Regions from separate parts of the Homo sapiens genome. Here region 2 is linked to region 1. The links come from fine-mapping of genetic effects on gene expression. Tissue or cell type: whole blood. Region 1 holds a variant in brackets; the other region holds the start of a gene. All regions are shown on one strand. Distances are between the middles of the regions.

The links. PIP is the estimated chance that this variant, and not a neighbour inherited with it, causes the effect.
Region 2: DIP2C starts here. The variant in region 1 is fine-mapped to the expression of DIP2C in whole blood (TOPMed, PIP above 0.99).

What each region holds. Positions count from the first base shown.
Region 1 is chr10:480,146-488,250 of GRCh38, forward strand. It overlaps DIP2C (disco interacting protein 2 homolog C), which reads right to left. Exons shown (of 37, transcript NM_014974.3): 2 at 6,314-6,385. Among named protein-coding and RNA genes, the nearest start is that of DIP2C-AS2, 140 kb to the right of the region's middle. The variant G/A (reference allele first, on the strand shown) is at 4,690.
Region 2 is chr10:686,350-694,454 of GRCh38, forward strand. DIP2C (disco interacting protein 2 homolog C) reads right to left here and starts at 3,319. Exons shown (of 37, transcript NM_014974.3): 1 at 3,145-3,319. The coding sequence starts at 3,229. RefSeq lists an enhancer at 3,694-4,629.

The sequences.
Region 1 (8,105 bases):
CTCACTGGATGAGTCTCACCCGCCAGCCTGAGCCCCGGTCCATGCTCACTGGATGAGGGTCTCATCCACCAGCCTGAGCTCCGGTCCATGCTCACTGGATGAGGGTCTCATCCACCAGCCTGAGCTCCGGGGTCCATGCTCACTGGATAAGACTCATCCACCAGCCTGAGCTCCGGTCCATGCTCACTGGATGAGGGTCTCATCCACCAGCCTGAGCTCCGGTCCATGCTCACTGGATAAGACTCATCCACCAGCCTGAGCCCCAGTCCACGCTCACTGGATGAGTCTCACCCGCCAGCCTGAGCCCTGGTCCATGCTCACTGGATGACGGTCTCATCTACCAGCCCGAGCTCCAGTCCACGCTCCTTGGATGAGATGCCAATCTCACCATCAGGACCGGGCCTTCACGTTTCTGCACTTTGCTTACACCTCGGATTTTTCACAAAACCCACGTGAGCAGTTCCAAAGTGGGTGCTACCCTCCCCACTGGAGACACACCGCATGGCGTAGGCTCAGCTGCACTCCCTCCATAGCGGCTGGCGCCTAAGACGAGGAATGCGATTCATTAAATGTTGCTGAAAAGACCAGGAAATAAACGTACGGGATCAAACTGACAGCTCCCTGTGGCAGAACACGTCTCCGGCAGCTAAGCGTGGTACCCTGTGAAGTGCCGACGGGAGCACGGCTGATCTGGAACACAGGTGATTCACCTGTCACTACAGCAACGCGGTCTAGAAAGATTCACGCTATGTCACAGGCAATGCCATCTGGACACCCACGTTTCCCCTCCTCTGGGATTTAAGTTTAAAACACCCTTACCCTGTGAGCTGCCACATGGCCTGAGACCCTAAGTGGAGGCAACCTGCCCGGGACAGGTCCCCGGGACCCTCCAGCCCAGGTGAGGAGGCGGTCCCTCCCCAGCACGTCTAGGAAGCGCTGCCTTGGGGTCACCAGACTGTAACTCTCATGGCACAACAAGAATACGGACCCACTGCGCACCTGCCCCGGGAAAGCACAGCCTCTGCTGACACGAGGAATCAGAACAACCAACGGCCAGCCCAGGTGAACAGGCCAGGGCCAGCCAGCCACGTCTTCTAAAGACGACAGAACAAAATGGCATTTACGTACTTAAGAAACTTTCTCATTCCGTATGTAACCAAAGTGCAAAATTCACAAATGCCAACTGCAGGGACCTCCTCCCTCACAACTGTCAAAGCCCAGTGGGAGAATCTGCAACGGGACCTCAGAGGAAGCCCTCTCCGTGGCGACAGGGCAAGGCAGCCACTGCAAGCAACAGCACTCAGGCCAGAGCAGCTGTTCTCATGAGAACATGTGATCCAGTCACAGGATCAAACACTGGGATGGGAGCCAAGTTCTGAAAAGATAATAAAATTCCACTGATTGGATGGTGCTGAGGTACATGTTACCCTCTGTCATTTCAGTCATTAATTAGCCCTTACATGTTACCATCTGCCATTTAAATTTACCCAAATCAAGAATAAAAATAAAACTGCAGCCCAGATAGACACCTGAGGCAGTGGAAGGTCTCCGGTGCCTGTTCAGGGCTTCACGTGGATCTGAGCATCATGCGGACACGGTGGCGTCTGCCCTCAGGGACACTGCACATCCATCCTCGTACCACGGTAGGGACGGTCACTCAGTGGGGCGGGGGGAAGTGAGGGCTGCCCCGGCCCACCCCCACAGGCAGACTCAGCCCCTCCGTGCCGCACCCACACATCCATACAGCAAATACCTGCCCAATGTCCACTTTCCGTGAGCAGGCAGCCGGGGCCTCAGGTGATTTACATACTGCTGCTGGGGGTTGGGGTGGAGACTTAGCGTTTAGTAACCACCACCCAACTATGACAGTGGTATTTCAGAGACAGGACGACATGGAGATGGGAATCCGGATGGTCTGACTGAAGGATCAGGGGAGAAATCCCTCAGGACAGAGCATCCAAACTGAGCTTTAAATGCCACCTGGACACGGCCAAGTGCACGGCCTGAGCAGAGTTCCTCATGTGGATGCAGCGGCATGGCTGTCGGGAGGGACAGCGGCGTGGCCATCGGGAGCCCTGGTAGCAGGGAGGAACTGAGACAAGTCCGTATTTGTGATTTGACTCAACAGTTGGACAGCACAGTGCAAGCCTGCAGGCCAGAGGCCTCCGGTGCAGACAGTGTAGAGCTTAACTCACACTGACCATGGGAGGCCTCTTCCTGGAGAGGCTGCTCACGCGACCCCATGATGGAAAAAGTGTGGGGCTTAACTCACACTGACCACGGATACCTCTTCCCTGGAGAGGCCGCTCACGTGACCTCATGGAGAGAGGCTGTGCCGCACAGACAAACCCCCTTACAGAGTCCTTGTAACTTGCACCTGGGCATCAAGCTGTCCGGCTATTGAAGGAAAAGCAAGCTGGGCTTGGAGAGGAATACCAGATCTTCATAAATCACTCAATACCAAGAAACATTTCACAGACAAACACATAAGAAGTTGCTGTGAGAAAGAGGAGCTGTATCTGAGCAAAGAAGGTTCCACCATTTATAGCCACACTGAAATTTTACTCTCTAAATCTCCACGGCCTGTGTCATACAAGCAGTGAGGCCTTGTTATCCAAGTCGACACTGTTATTAAGATCTCTCTGAAGAGGCTGCCAGGCAGTGGATTTTATTTCCTAGGTTTACAACTTTGACTGGGCTTAGAGACTGATGAGGGATGGGTTTGAACCGCAGAAGGGTGAGAGCGAAGTGGGCAGCTTCCCTAAGCAGCGTCTTCTCCCTGAAGATGATCTTCCAGGCACCCTCTCTGACCCTTCTTTCACTGCATGTATAACTCACATTTCTTCCTGGCTCCGGACAGTCTTTTCCTCAACTAGATTTAGGCAGGTGCTCAGCACCAACGCTCACTTCTGAATCCCGACTGGAGGCCCCGACAGACGCTGCCCTCCTGAGCAGCTGGGACGTGCCTGGCTGGCCTAGGGAACAGAACCCCCATTGTAGCTCGTAATTCTGCATCCCAAACAACATCCTAGAAACACTTTTAGAATAGTTTCTGGAGGAATAGGAATGTAAATGTTAGGAAAAAAGGGTGGAAGTTAATCAGAACACAAACCCCTTACAGGCAAGTGCGCAGCAGCACAGGGGAACAAGAAAGAAAGATGTTTTCCACGAAGATCCTGCACAAAGGAAGTCACGTCCCATGGGGCCAACCAAGAAAGCAGCCTCGGCTTTGGAAACGTCTGCGTTCCTTGCTGCTTCCCAGGACAGCTGCACATGGTGCACACTTGCGTGTCACAAGCAACGTCTCCAAATGAAGGTCGGCAGGGAAACAGCCTCGCTGGGGCCCTAGCACCGCTGTCCGGAGTCCCCCCATCCTGAGTCTGGTGTCTGGGCCTCAATCAGGCGGCCCGGGCCGTCCTTCTCCTGTTTTCCTCACGTTTCCGGCAGATAAATTCTGAAATGGACCTCGTGGCTAAAACCCAGCCCTGTCGCCTTCTCATCAGCTCTGCCCCTTGCTCCTGAGAGGGTGCGAGGGAATCAGCCCAGAGAGGGCTCCTGAGAGGGCCCAGAGAGGAGGAACGCAGTGGAGGCCAGGAGGCGAGGCGGGGTGTCCTCTTCTGAGACCCCAGTGGCCAACTGTAATAATAAAGTTTGCCTCTATGACTTCATTTTACCAATTTTTTTTTTTTGAGACAGGGTCTCGCTCTGTCCCCCAGGCTGGAACACAGTGCCACAATCATAGCTCACTGCAGCCTTGACTTCTTGGATTCAAGCAATCCTCCTGCTTCAGCCTCCCATATAGCTGGGATCACAGGCACCCACCATCATGCCTAATTTTTTCTTTTGTAGAGACGGGGACTCCCTTTGTTGCCCAGGCTGGTCTGAAACACCTGGACCTAAGCAATCCCCTTCCTCAGCCTCCCCAAGTGCTGGGATCACAGGCGTGAGCCACCACCCCCGGCCTTGTATGTGATTTTAAAACACATTTTGAAGTGTAACCCTGAACACGAACCTAAAACTTCCACCTGCATATGATTTTCTTCATTCTGGTGGAAAATGCACTGAACTCCCTTTTTGCATCATGAAATTCCTGTATTCAAAATACTGTCCGCCAAAGTAATTCTTACCTTTGAACAGAATCCTTACCTCTAAGAACATACTCTATGATTAACTGCTTTTTCTATTTCAAAAACCCTTACTTTGCTCTTTGGAGATGGAAATCTCAAAATCACTCCTTCTAGCAGATCTCAGAGGCCAAGACCCATCAGCTCATCCTTTAATTGGGTCTTTGGCTATAAGATGAAAGTCTGTAGAATACCAGTGGCTTTAAGAAGTTTTATAATTTGTCACGCATTCTTCTTAAGTGTTTTCTAAGTGGTGCCCAACTGAGAAAGGGGAATTGTAAAAGCAACGTTCTACTTCAATAGGAAACGCAGAACTGGGCCCTGATTCACAGGGACAGACCTGGTCTCTGGCGAGCTCTGGGCCTGTGGAGCGACCTGGCTCACTGGAGAATGGGACCCTCAGGCCCCCAAGGCCACACCCTACACGTCTGTACGGGATGGCACTCGGCGGGTGGCCCTTTTCTAATGTGTACCCTGCTGTGGGGCTGGCTCTCAGCAAAGCAGCGCTCACCGAAACGAAAGTAAAACAGAGGCCGGTTCCCTGCGGTGCTGGCCACCCGCTCCC[G/A]AGCCGCAGCTTCTCGGACGTCGCACACCCCGATGTGGGCAGAGCGGAATGTTCTCCTCGGCGCTCCTTCACTGTGCTGCAGTCTACACCGAACCACGGCAGCTCCATTCGCTGCTGTAACAAGTTGAAAAAAAACTAATTAATTCAAACTTTAGTTTTTTTTAAATTTGTTACAGCGCTGAGCAGAGCTGCCGACCCCATGCAGGACAGCACACAGACCACCAAGGGGACCACAGGGCACGACCGCCCTCTGCGCCCGGCTAAGGCCAGGGCCACCGCGGGAGGCACGGTGCGCTGGAGAACCGTCCTGGCAAGCGAGGAACCGCTTCTGTTTCACTTTTGTTTGGCAAGGCAAGAAAGTTAAAACCAACAGCGTCCGTGGCCTACAGTCAGACCCCACCTTCTGCAGCACATGAGGGCACCTGCAGAGGGGAACTCACAGGGACAGGGCGGGGGCAGCTGTCGCCCCATGGCTCTGCGAGAAGAGAATGAGGGAGGGGGCGCAGGCCATCAGGGGATCTACCCAGCACTGCCCTGAAGCCTCTCGCCCCAGCATTCCAGCCCAGCCCTCTGCTCCCCTTCTCTCGGGTTCCTCGGCGTCTATCCCTGACTTAAGCCTCTGCTAAGCAAGGTCCACAGAAACATGTTCACTGTTACATCACTGTCTCAAAAATCAAGGCAAGAAAAACACGAAATGAAAACAAAACTACCAATAGCAGAATCTCCACACCGTTTCCTGCAGCCTGAGCCTCAGGAAACTTTCCTTACTGAGTCAACAGGACCCGGACGGGCCTCGGGAAGAACAGAATCGGGGTTTGTGCAGGTGTGGACATGTGCATCCTTAAACCTTCTAAAATCTTCTTTCAATGGTAAGAACTATGCAAGTTCAATTTCCACCTTTAAAATTTATGTTGCTAGCCTTTATGTTTGAGGAAGAAACTGCTTGTGTTAGCTTTAAGCCATTCCTCAAGCCTACCAAATTTTCAAGGTCGCTCTTGGGCTGAATTGAGCTTGCCAGCTGGGAACTGAGGTGCTAGAATCCCCATCTAATATGAGATTCTTTTTCCTGACATTTACAGAACCCAGCTCAAGTGCAGGAAAGCTGCCAATCTGCACACGTAGAAACGCTGGCGGGAAACCGACTGCCCTTCTCAAGAATCATCATGGATGTTTGCAACCACATCTCAACACACAACCAGCTTTCACGATTGCCAAGTCCTGGGCGGGGTATCACAGCACTGTCTAGATTTGGCCTGTGCCACCAACAGAAGCCTTGGATTAAACCAGAATCAATAGTAATAAATAGCTCTCTAAACCAAATATGTTGAAATCACTAATGCACTCATATTTTTACGATTATAGCATTTTAAAGTAACCAACCCAATACCGATCTCTACTTATAGAGAAAACACCTATTAGGCACACTTATAGAAAAATCCTCTGTGCCTTGTATATTCACACAGCACGTGTGATCACTCAAAGGAACTGAATGCCTGGAGGGTGAACGCCAGACGCCTCCTCCTGCCGACTGGGAAGCAAGGGAGCGTCTGCCTCCAGATGTTTCTCTGGCACATAGTGAATGCGGGAAATGAGAGGACTCATGCTACTCATGGGGGTTACCTACTCGGAGGCTGCGGAAGGTAGGCTCCAATTAACTTTGACCTCTTCTTTTCATATCCTTTTTGTGTGATGTCACCTGCAAGAGAAGGAAAATGAAGTTCAGTATGGTCTCCGTGGATAGAGCATTATCATTCAACGGTGCCCAAGAAGACACAGTTATCACAGTATCTTCTGTGTGCCTCATTGTTAGAATTTTAAAAGCAAGCACTGCACATCAAACAACTTCAGTTCCTCCCCTGCTCTCGAACAAAAGCCCACAGCATGTAAGTCACTAAAACTCATTTGTTAAACACACGCCTGTTTCTGGCCCCTTCTGTATTTATCCGGATGGGGTCCAGGGTTAGACCCCTGCCATCTCATCCCCACCCGCTGGCACAGGAAGCCAAGCCTGGTGGCCGGGGCTCTCGTTAACTCAGTCAACGACAGATCCTGCAGCTGCCAGGGCCGGGATGGCCGACACCAGCACCTATTGGCATCTTCTTCATTAACAAGATGTTTTCTAACCAAGCAGGTCGGTCACAAGGACTTGAAGCCGCCACAGTGTTTTTGAAAAAGGAGTGACAAAGGCTAAGGGAAGAAGCAAAAGGTGTGAAACCTGCAGAAATCCAGAAGACAAGAGAAAGGTGCTTGTGGTGAGGCAAGAATCCACATGTTAAAGCTCACAGACAGCCACGGACGCGCAGCAGCCATGCCTTTCCTGGAGCCAGCGCAAGCACACAGGACAAAGCCACCTCATCGACACACAGAGGCCCTTCCCATTCACAAGCTCCAGCACACACAGAATACTCATTCGCTGTTCATTTTTTTGGATCTGTTGTATTGTTTTCTAAGACTGATCAAACCATAATTCCAAGAAGAGTGAAAAATTCAAGCTTTAACAAAAATATAGCAAATGAATGAAAAGTTATCAAGGTACACACACAAGCTGGTCAACTCACTTTTCCTAGTGAAAGGCGGGCAGTCTCGGATGCTGCCTCTGCCTCCACGGCTGCCTCCACCAACTCACAGCTCATGATACAGGTTCTCGTCTCCCCCACGGAACACAAGGCTGACGTCTCAACACGGAGCCAAGAACCAAATGACACGGAACCCGCATCCGCCCATCAATGAGTGTTTTTTTTTTTTTTTTTTTTTTTTTTTTTTGAGACAGTCTCTCTCTGTCGCCCAGGCTGGAGTGCAGTGGCGTGATCTCAGCTCACTGCAAGCTCCGCCTCCTGGGTTCACACCATTCTCCTACCTCAGCCTCCCGAGTAGCTGAGACTACAGGCGCTGGCCACCACGCCCGGCTAATTTTTTGTATTTTTAGTAGAGACAGGGTTTCACCATGTTAGCCAGGATGATCTCCATCTCCTGACCTCATGATCTGCCACTTCAGCCTCCCAAAGTGCTGAGATTACAGGCGTGAGCCACCGTGCCCAGCCGATGCTAACTAGGTAGCTGGCCACTGACAACAAAGGACAATTTCTGCAGAAATGTTAAAGCTTGCCGGGCACTCCACACCGGCAGCCATCAGCTGCCCACTACGGAGACGCTCAGTTGCTTTTGGAAATGCCTTGTTAACCCGTTTTACAAACAATGTCCAAAATCTGAACCACAGAAGCAGCCACATGTGCACGTGCTTGATTTAAATCGAGCCCCCAGTCAATCAGCAAAGAAAATTTCCAGACAAGACTTTAATAAATCCTAGGTTACTATCATCTCTCAAAACCTAGGAGGTGGGAAAGGGTGGCAGCACTGAGTAACTTCCATGCCCCGCATTTTCCCCCAAACCAGGGTCTGGGAACTAAGTCTCGAGG
Region 2 (8,105 bases), 210 kb after region 1:
CACGTGGTCTCCCCACCTGCACAGCCTCCTCACCCGAGGGGCCTCCGCACCCTCATGGCCTCCCCACCTGCACAGCCTCCGCACCCACACAGCCTCCCCACCCGCACAACCTCCCCACCCACACAGCCTCCTGACCGTGTGGCCTCCTTACCTGCATGGCCTCCTCCCTGGCTCACACTCAGACCCAAGTATGTGAGGAGATGACCCCCCTGGCCACACAACCTGAATGTATCCCCACATGGATTCGAGGCCATCAGCTCCCACAAGAGGGCTGCCCAGCACTTCTCCCCACAGAGAGCCCTTGTGTTTTGCTGGCCGCATGCTCTGTGGTGTGAGCTGGCCTCACCTTCCCCTGTGAGGGGGCACAGGGCACGGGACAGGGACAGGCAGTGGAAGAAGGATGGAGCCCTCGGCCCCGCAGCAGGAAGTGCCCCTGCAGCCCTGCAAAGCAGGACACCAGCAGTGCATGTAATGGCGCCCAGCAGGCGGGCACAGCAGAACTGGACCAGGGTCTAGAAACCCACACAATGCGTAACCCACGCAGGCTGGCAGCCCACACAGGAACCTCAGGGGAATGCTCTACTCTTTCCTTCAGTCTATGTTATGTGCTTAAAACGGAACTTTTTCCATCCTCCTCTGTAGGAAATGAGCACTGGAAATTCCACATATGTTTCTATAATATTTTCTGATATTTTAATAAAATGATGACAACCAACTTAAAGAATTCTCTCCACTTGAATTTTGATTGAAGATGGGAAATAATTCAGCATTAACAGCTGTTTTCAGCTTTCACTCTGAAAGCAGATACATTGAGGAATTTTTGAAGTCCAATAACATAAAGAAACACAGAATTTTGATCCTTCAATTCTTGGATTTCTATTAAGCAATACTGGAAAACAAGTTGATTCATCTAATTTAAGCCTGTAAAACTGTTTTATGTGGTTATGAGACAGAGAATTCCAAATGACCTTACAGCACTACCCCCATAAACTCAACCTGGGCAAACCCACACTTCACAGCAAAGTTAAAGACCATCCAGCAAACAGATGAGGCAGTGGGGCCAGCACAGGCCGGAGGGTGCAGAGAGGCTGAATAGAGCCACGGAGCAACCCTCTCACCCTTTCTTCTTAAATGTGTAGCTCAGATCTCAGCAAGATTCATGTGGAAGGAAAAATATAATTAGGCTTCCTGCATGCAAACACACACACCCCTTTCTCTGCCTGGTCTCTCAATAAGAAACTAACTCATTAAGCCCTTTTTAAAAAACCTGTACAGACGCAAGGTGTTCACAGGGAATTCGGCTGAGCACACCTTCGTCGAAAGTGGCTTTGCCATCATCTGGGCAGCAAGACAGTATCACTCACCCTCCAAGAGCAACTGACAGGCAAGTGTCGTCACCTCAAAAGGCCACAATGCCCAACACAGGACACCCATTCCCATAGACATCCCAGACTCTGGGAACAAATGTGGGTCCAACTTCTGGGCTAGCAGTGGGTGGGGGAACCCTCAGATGGGGCTCGCCCTGCTGAGCTCAGGGGCGCTACGCTCTGCTGACCTGGATGGGGCACTGACACTTCACATCAGTGTGATGCAGGCAGCACAGAAGCCCCTGTCCTGAGACAGCGAACACGGAGGGTGCTGCAGGCAGGGGTGCACCTGGGCCGAGACGCAAGCCGGGAAACCTACCCAAGGCTGACACAATCAGATAACCAGGGTGGGCCTTTTGCAAATGATACACTCCTTACCCACCAAACGAGCTGTCTGCACTGCACAATCTACTTACCAGTTTACATCCGAACCCTGCACACGGCAGCTCCCGCCTCCTAGCCATGCCCTCCTCATCCTCAGCTCCTCAGGAGGGCAGCAGCCAAGCCCACAGGCCTGGAAGACTCTGCCCCCCGCCAACTGTGTCACGTTACAGGACACTGACACACCTCGCGGAACCCCACATCTGAAACTGAAAAACAGTACCATTTCCCGTCCCCAGAAGTCTGGAAAGGCAGTTGGCTGCACACCATGGCCCCTGCTCACTCCCTTCTTTGCCCTGAAAGTGTTAAAAAGGAAAACATAAAGTCAACACCAGCTCCTCCCTGCCGGTGAAAATTGGCACGAATGAGTTTACTTTCTGGCTGCCGGCCCTCACAAAACCGTTACCCAAAAAAAGTTCACCATGCTAAACTGCTCCAAATATAAATGTGAGACGCGCCGGCCCACCCCCACCCCACCCCACGTTACAGGAATGGCCTGACCAGGATGAGCCCAGAGACGGCTAAATGCACATCAAACATTTCAGATTTGGGAACTTCAGTGGTTTTGGGGAAAAGACCTGGCAAAGCCCGATCTGAAACTTATGACAGTTGAGCACATGATCTCCGCCATGAAGAGCAAATAAGAGGCGTACACAACCCTCCATAAGACCGCGGTGGCTGATCTGCCACAAACCCTCCTACGAGAGGACCAGGACGGCAAGGCCGGAGCCCGGCCCGGGGGGAGGTTGACGATTCCGCCCAGCCCTCCCCGCGCAGCGCCCGCGAACAATGGGGGTGGGATCCCCCGGGCCGCGCCAGGACCGCTGCACGGCCTGAGCCACCAGAGATCGAACCCGGGGTCCAACGACAAGTTTCGCATTGAAATCTGGCCGGGCGTTCCAGGCCGAACCCGCCAGCGAGGAGGTGGCGCGCACCGCGCTGCTGCACCAAGGACGCCGCGGCTCCAGCGCAGAGCGCACGGGAAGGCCGATCCCGCCGGGCCCGCTGCATCCTGCGTCCCCGCGCGGCGCCCAGGCCCCACAGACACCCCCAGGGCGCGGGGGGATCGCGGCCCCACAAACATCCCAGGGCGCGGGGGATCGCGGCCCCACAAACACCCCCAGAGCGCGAGGGGATCCCAGGCCCCACAGACACCCCCAGGGCGCGGGGAATCGCGGCCCCACAAACGTCCCCAGAGCGCGGGGGATCGCGGCCTCACAAACGTCCCTAGGGCGCGGGGTCTGGGGGTCCGGGGGACGCGCACGCTCCGGGCTGGGGTCGCACCTCCCCCTCCGGGCCCGGCCCCCGCCCCGCCGCAGGCCCCGCGCCCCCAGCCCTCCGCGCGCGGCCCTCCCCGGTGACAGCGCGGCCCGGCCCGGGGCGGGGGCCCGGTTACCTTCCGACAGCTCCAGCTCCAGCTCGGCCAGGCGCGCCCGCACCTCCAGGGGCAGCGCCATGCCCTCCAGGCTGCGGTCCGCCATGCTCCGCGGGCGCCGCGCCCCGCACGGCCTCCTCTTTGTTCGCAGGCGGAGGTCTCGGCGGCTCCTCGCGCCCGGCGGAACCGCACCGAGGAGGAGGCGGCGGCGCGGGCGCGGGAGGCGGGCGGCGGGCGCGCAGGGACCTCCCTCCCCTCGGCGCCTCCTCAGCGCGGCCCCGCCACGGCCGCCTCGCGCGCCCCCGCGCCCCACGGTCCCCGGCCCGCCCCGCGCGCGCTCGGCCCCTCCCCGCAGGCGCTGCGGACCCGGACCCGGCCCTGCTGCTCTCGGCCCCGGCCCGGCGGGAGCGTCTCTGCGCGCGCGCGTCACGGGGCCGCGGGGGCAGGGCGCGCGCGCGCGGGGCGCGAGGACGCGCAGGAGCGGGAGCGCGCGGGGGGGCGCGCGGCCGCGTCGGCGAAGCGCGCGCTCCCGGGGGCGCGCTCGGGGGCGGGTTGGGGGCTCGGGGCCCGCGGGGCGGGGCGGGGCGGGGCGGTCTTGTCTGTCCTGGGCTCTGCGCGTCCAGCGGAGCCTGCGGGCCCGGCCCCAGAGCCTGGTCCACCCGGCTCCCTGCGAAAATCACGTCCTGGAGCCGCAGCTTGACGTCTGCGCGAAAACTCGCAGTGCCCCGGGTCTTGGAGGGCTGGTTTTTTGTTAATGAACATTTTAAGAGGCGGAGACGGAGCGCTAGGCTGGAAGTTTCGAATGCAACGACCAGCAGATGACCTTGAGCGACTCTGAGCCTTTGCCTGGAGGGTCAGTGTCCCCATCTGTGAAAAGGGGATGGGAAGACAAGGTTGGGTCACCTAATCTCCAAATGCCAGGTGGGCCCGAAAAGCCTGGCTCCAGCCCTCCCGGAACAGGCTGCAGGCCCCAGGGTTCCCACCGTCCTTCTCCTTGTGGGGCCATCAGCTCCCAGCCTCAGTGCCACCTCGGCGAGGCTGAAGCCCCGTCTGTGCCTCTAGTCCTGACCATCTGGGGAGGCCCTCGCATCTCCAACCGTCCACTGAGCAAACTTCCCTGGAAGCCCCTAGACACCCCAAACGCCACAAACCCTAAATGAAGCCAGCTGCTTCCAGTGACTCTTAGTCACTGGAAGTTCTGCTTCTCAGAACCGCCCCCGTTGTCTTCATCATCACCTTCCTCTGTCTCCACACATCCTCCCCAGTCTGTTGCACAAAGCCCCGACGACCTGGCCTCCTTTTCATCCTTGTACCCCCTCTTCCCAGCCCGGCCCCTCCCTTAGGCCCAGAGCTTCCTAAAGACCTCCTCGCCTCCCCGTCCTCCACGGGACATTGGCCAGCGCTGGCTCCCGGAGGCCCAGCTGCACTCACTCCCCTTTCAGAGTGGGCCGCAGGAACACAGGTCCCCCACCTCACCCCCCTACCCCTACCCCCCACCACCCCCCCACCCCGCTTCGACCGGAGCCCCCACCAGCCGGGACCCACCTGCACGGCAGCCTTGCGGCCTCCACACTCCGGCTCCTGCAAACAACGCGGCTGACCCGCAGCACCTCTGCTCCCGGCCTCCACCCCGGAGAGCCTGCCCCTTCTCTGCCCCTGCCACCCACAGCCATCCCTGACCCCAGGTCCAGAACAATCTCTCTCCTTTCTCTTCCTGCACCGGCCACTTCCCGCCCTCATCACGTTTGACCTTTTTTATCTTCTCTGTATTCTTTGTGAGTGTAAGCGCCTGGAGGACAGAGCCCATGCCTCACCCACCTTTGCCCTTCCCATGGATCTAGCAGTGGTGGCAACCGCCAGAGGTGTGTGCATTTCCTGTAAGGATCGGTCCTTTCAGTGGGGAATTGTGAGAATGACATTCGACGATGAGCTGGGAAACAGGAACCCCAAACCCGTGTGCTTCCTGCGCCGAGCCGTGTGCCTCCGCCTGGTGTGCGCCGTGGGTTCGTCCTTCGCTCCAGACTGCGTTCAATGCAACAGATACGGGTGGCACAAGCATGTGGCCCCACCATCATCTCTCCCCTTTGCATGATAAAGAGACCGACCAGCAATGCAGGGGCCGTGGGGAAGATCCCACACAGCCCCTACACGTCACAGATAAAAGTCCTTAGAGACAGAAAGGGGAGCAGAACCAGGATTCAAACCCCAGTCTCCAAAGCAAAGCCCTGAGTTCATTTCATTACAGCAAAGATGCACTGTGCATTCCAAGCAATAAATGGTGTCAAGTCCATTTAGGGCGGTATAATGTCGGAATAAAAAATATATATTCGCGGGCCAGGCACGGTGGCTCACACCTGTAATCCCAACACTTTGGGAGGCCAAGGCAGGTGGATCATGAGGTCAGGAGTTCAAGACCAGCCTAGTCAATATGGTGAAACCCCATCTCTACTAAAAACTACAAAAAATTAGCTGGGCATGGTGGCACACACCTGTAGTCCCAGCTACTCAGGAGGCTGAGGCAGGAGGATCACTTGAACCCGGGAGGTGGAGGTTACAGTGAACCGAGATCGCACCACTGCACTCCAGCCTGGGTGACAGAGCGAGATTCAGTCTCAAAAAAAAAAATACATATATATATATATATATATATATATATATATTCTTTTTGATGGGCCTTAATCATTTGCATATGATCCTATGACTGATGTTGGTTGCAAAGAAAACTTGTAATTTGCATTAAACACATCAATTGCAAACTCAGATTTTGAGCTGATGGTTCCTTTCAGCAGGTCTTTGGGCACCTACACATTACACGTGTGAGTGTGGGCTCTCGGTCTTAGACTGCCATTTCCAGGAGCCTGATAGATATCATCTTTATCTGGAACTCCTACCATCTCCTTGAAATTCATGCTGTCCACAATCAAACTCATCCTACCTACCAATACTTTCCCCCATGTACATTATTTCTGAGAGCAGCCTCCCTTTCACTTTGAGTCCCCTCAAGAACTTCTACCCACAGCATTTCTCTTGTGCGCCACCTGCTCCTGTCGAGGCCTCTGGCTATGGCCCATGTCAGGCCTTCAGAGCCTCCTTCCAGTCTTCCCACCACGGCTGTCAGATCACTCTTCTAAAAAGTCCCTCTTAGCACAGACCACAGGCCCCTTGCTGTACAACCCATGATTCTATGCCTGCAAACTGAAGAAATCCTTAATTGACACCAATGGTCTCACGAGCCCTGCACTAAACATTTCTCCTGCTTTCTGTTCCTCCCGTCTCTTTCAAGCTCCGAGGTTCAGCTGCAGAATTCCCAGCTGTCCATGGAGAGTCCCCACCTGTGGTGTCTGTTTTTCTAATGTGCTCCCTCCTGTCGTCTCCCCTTCCCCACAACCTGAGTCATAGCCGCACACGGAATTTCACCCAGTCCAGTCCAAGTTCAAACGCCACTTCTTCCATGCAGCCTTCCCAAATCTCCTGGTTAGAAAGATTCTCTCCCACCTGTGGAATTACACACCTCTTTATCCACCTGCTCTCCCTGGGATTGGTCATTTATGTGTGTGTTTTGTCTGGTGGCTGGCTTATCTATAATTGTCCCATTGTGTTGACTGACACCACAAACAGCATAGTGCCTCTGTCTGGAAGTGCAGACCAGCACAGGAGCGGAGAGGAGCAGCCCCTTCCTCGGTCTCATTCTGCTCCACCTGTGAGCAGCCTTGCGGAACGTGTGGTTGGTGAACACCTTGCCATCTTACGTGTTCCTAAGTGTAAAAACCTGGTTCAAATGTCTGCCCAGGCAGGAATGAAGGTGCCCAATAGATGTTTATTAGAATGAATCAAATAGACTCCCAGGGCTGTTGGCTTCAAAAGCTCTGCCAAACCCCCGAAATTTCCATCAGGGATTAAAGTCACGTTTTTGAGCTACTCCACAGTTTTGCCTAGACAAGTCTCGAAAACAGTGTTGTGAGCTCCACAGAGCGACAGCTACATGTATCTAATTAAACAATTAATTAATTACCATGCCAGCTAGTATTTGAGGACCCGTTTCTAGGTCTTGCTTTACTGTCTGCTGACGGGTAATTCGTCACCATTATTTACCCTAACTTCCAGGACCTCACCTATTTTTTTCTGTCTCACTGAATTCCAAGCCAATTCTAATGAGTGAAAAATTAATTACTTACGTGTAATGGGCTCGAGATTTCAGGAAATCTGACTGGGGTGGGAAAGAGTAGCAAAGGAATGTGTTGAATCAGAGCAGGCTGGAGGTATCGGTGCCAGGCAGAGAGTTTATTTATTCATGAGATCGCTAACAGGAAGGAAACACAAAGCTCTCAGGGAGTGGCTCCCCTGCAGAAATGCATCTCAGAGCTGCACCTAGACTACCTCCCTCTTTATCAGATTAATGGAAAATTGTTCATGCTGCACTCTCCCCTGTGTGCCCCAATTCTGTGACTTTTTTTTTTCCTTTTCCAAAGCTACTGGAAGAGTAGGTGGTAAAACACTGTGGCTGGCGTCCCCCAGGTACTTACATCTTCAATCCTCTGTATGGCCGGGGGAAGCAGGGGTTACCATCTCATTGTGACAAAATCTTCCTAAGCTGCAATTTCCACACAGAACCGTGGCTGGAAGCTTATGTTTTGGGTTATGTTTCATTCTTGTCTTACCATATTATCAGAAATTCAGCTTGGGTAGACTAAGGAAAGGACAAAAGTGAGTAATCGCCTGACACAGAAAGCTTGGGTTTAATTAATTAGTATTTAGAAAGCAACTTAAGACTCCGGAACGCAACTCATCTATGCAGTCAAGAGATCATTAACATTTTTGTGACACAGGTGTTTTTCACAACATTATAGAATTAACTCTGTAATGTGACTATGACTAAGTTTGGTAAACCAGAGGTACATTTTCCTGTCTATTGGTGGTTACTGTCTTCCTCTGGAAGTAACAAACTATCCAATCTATTTACTGAAGAACAAGTACATTAGTAA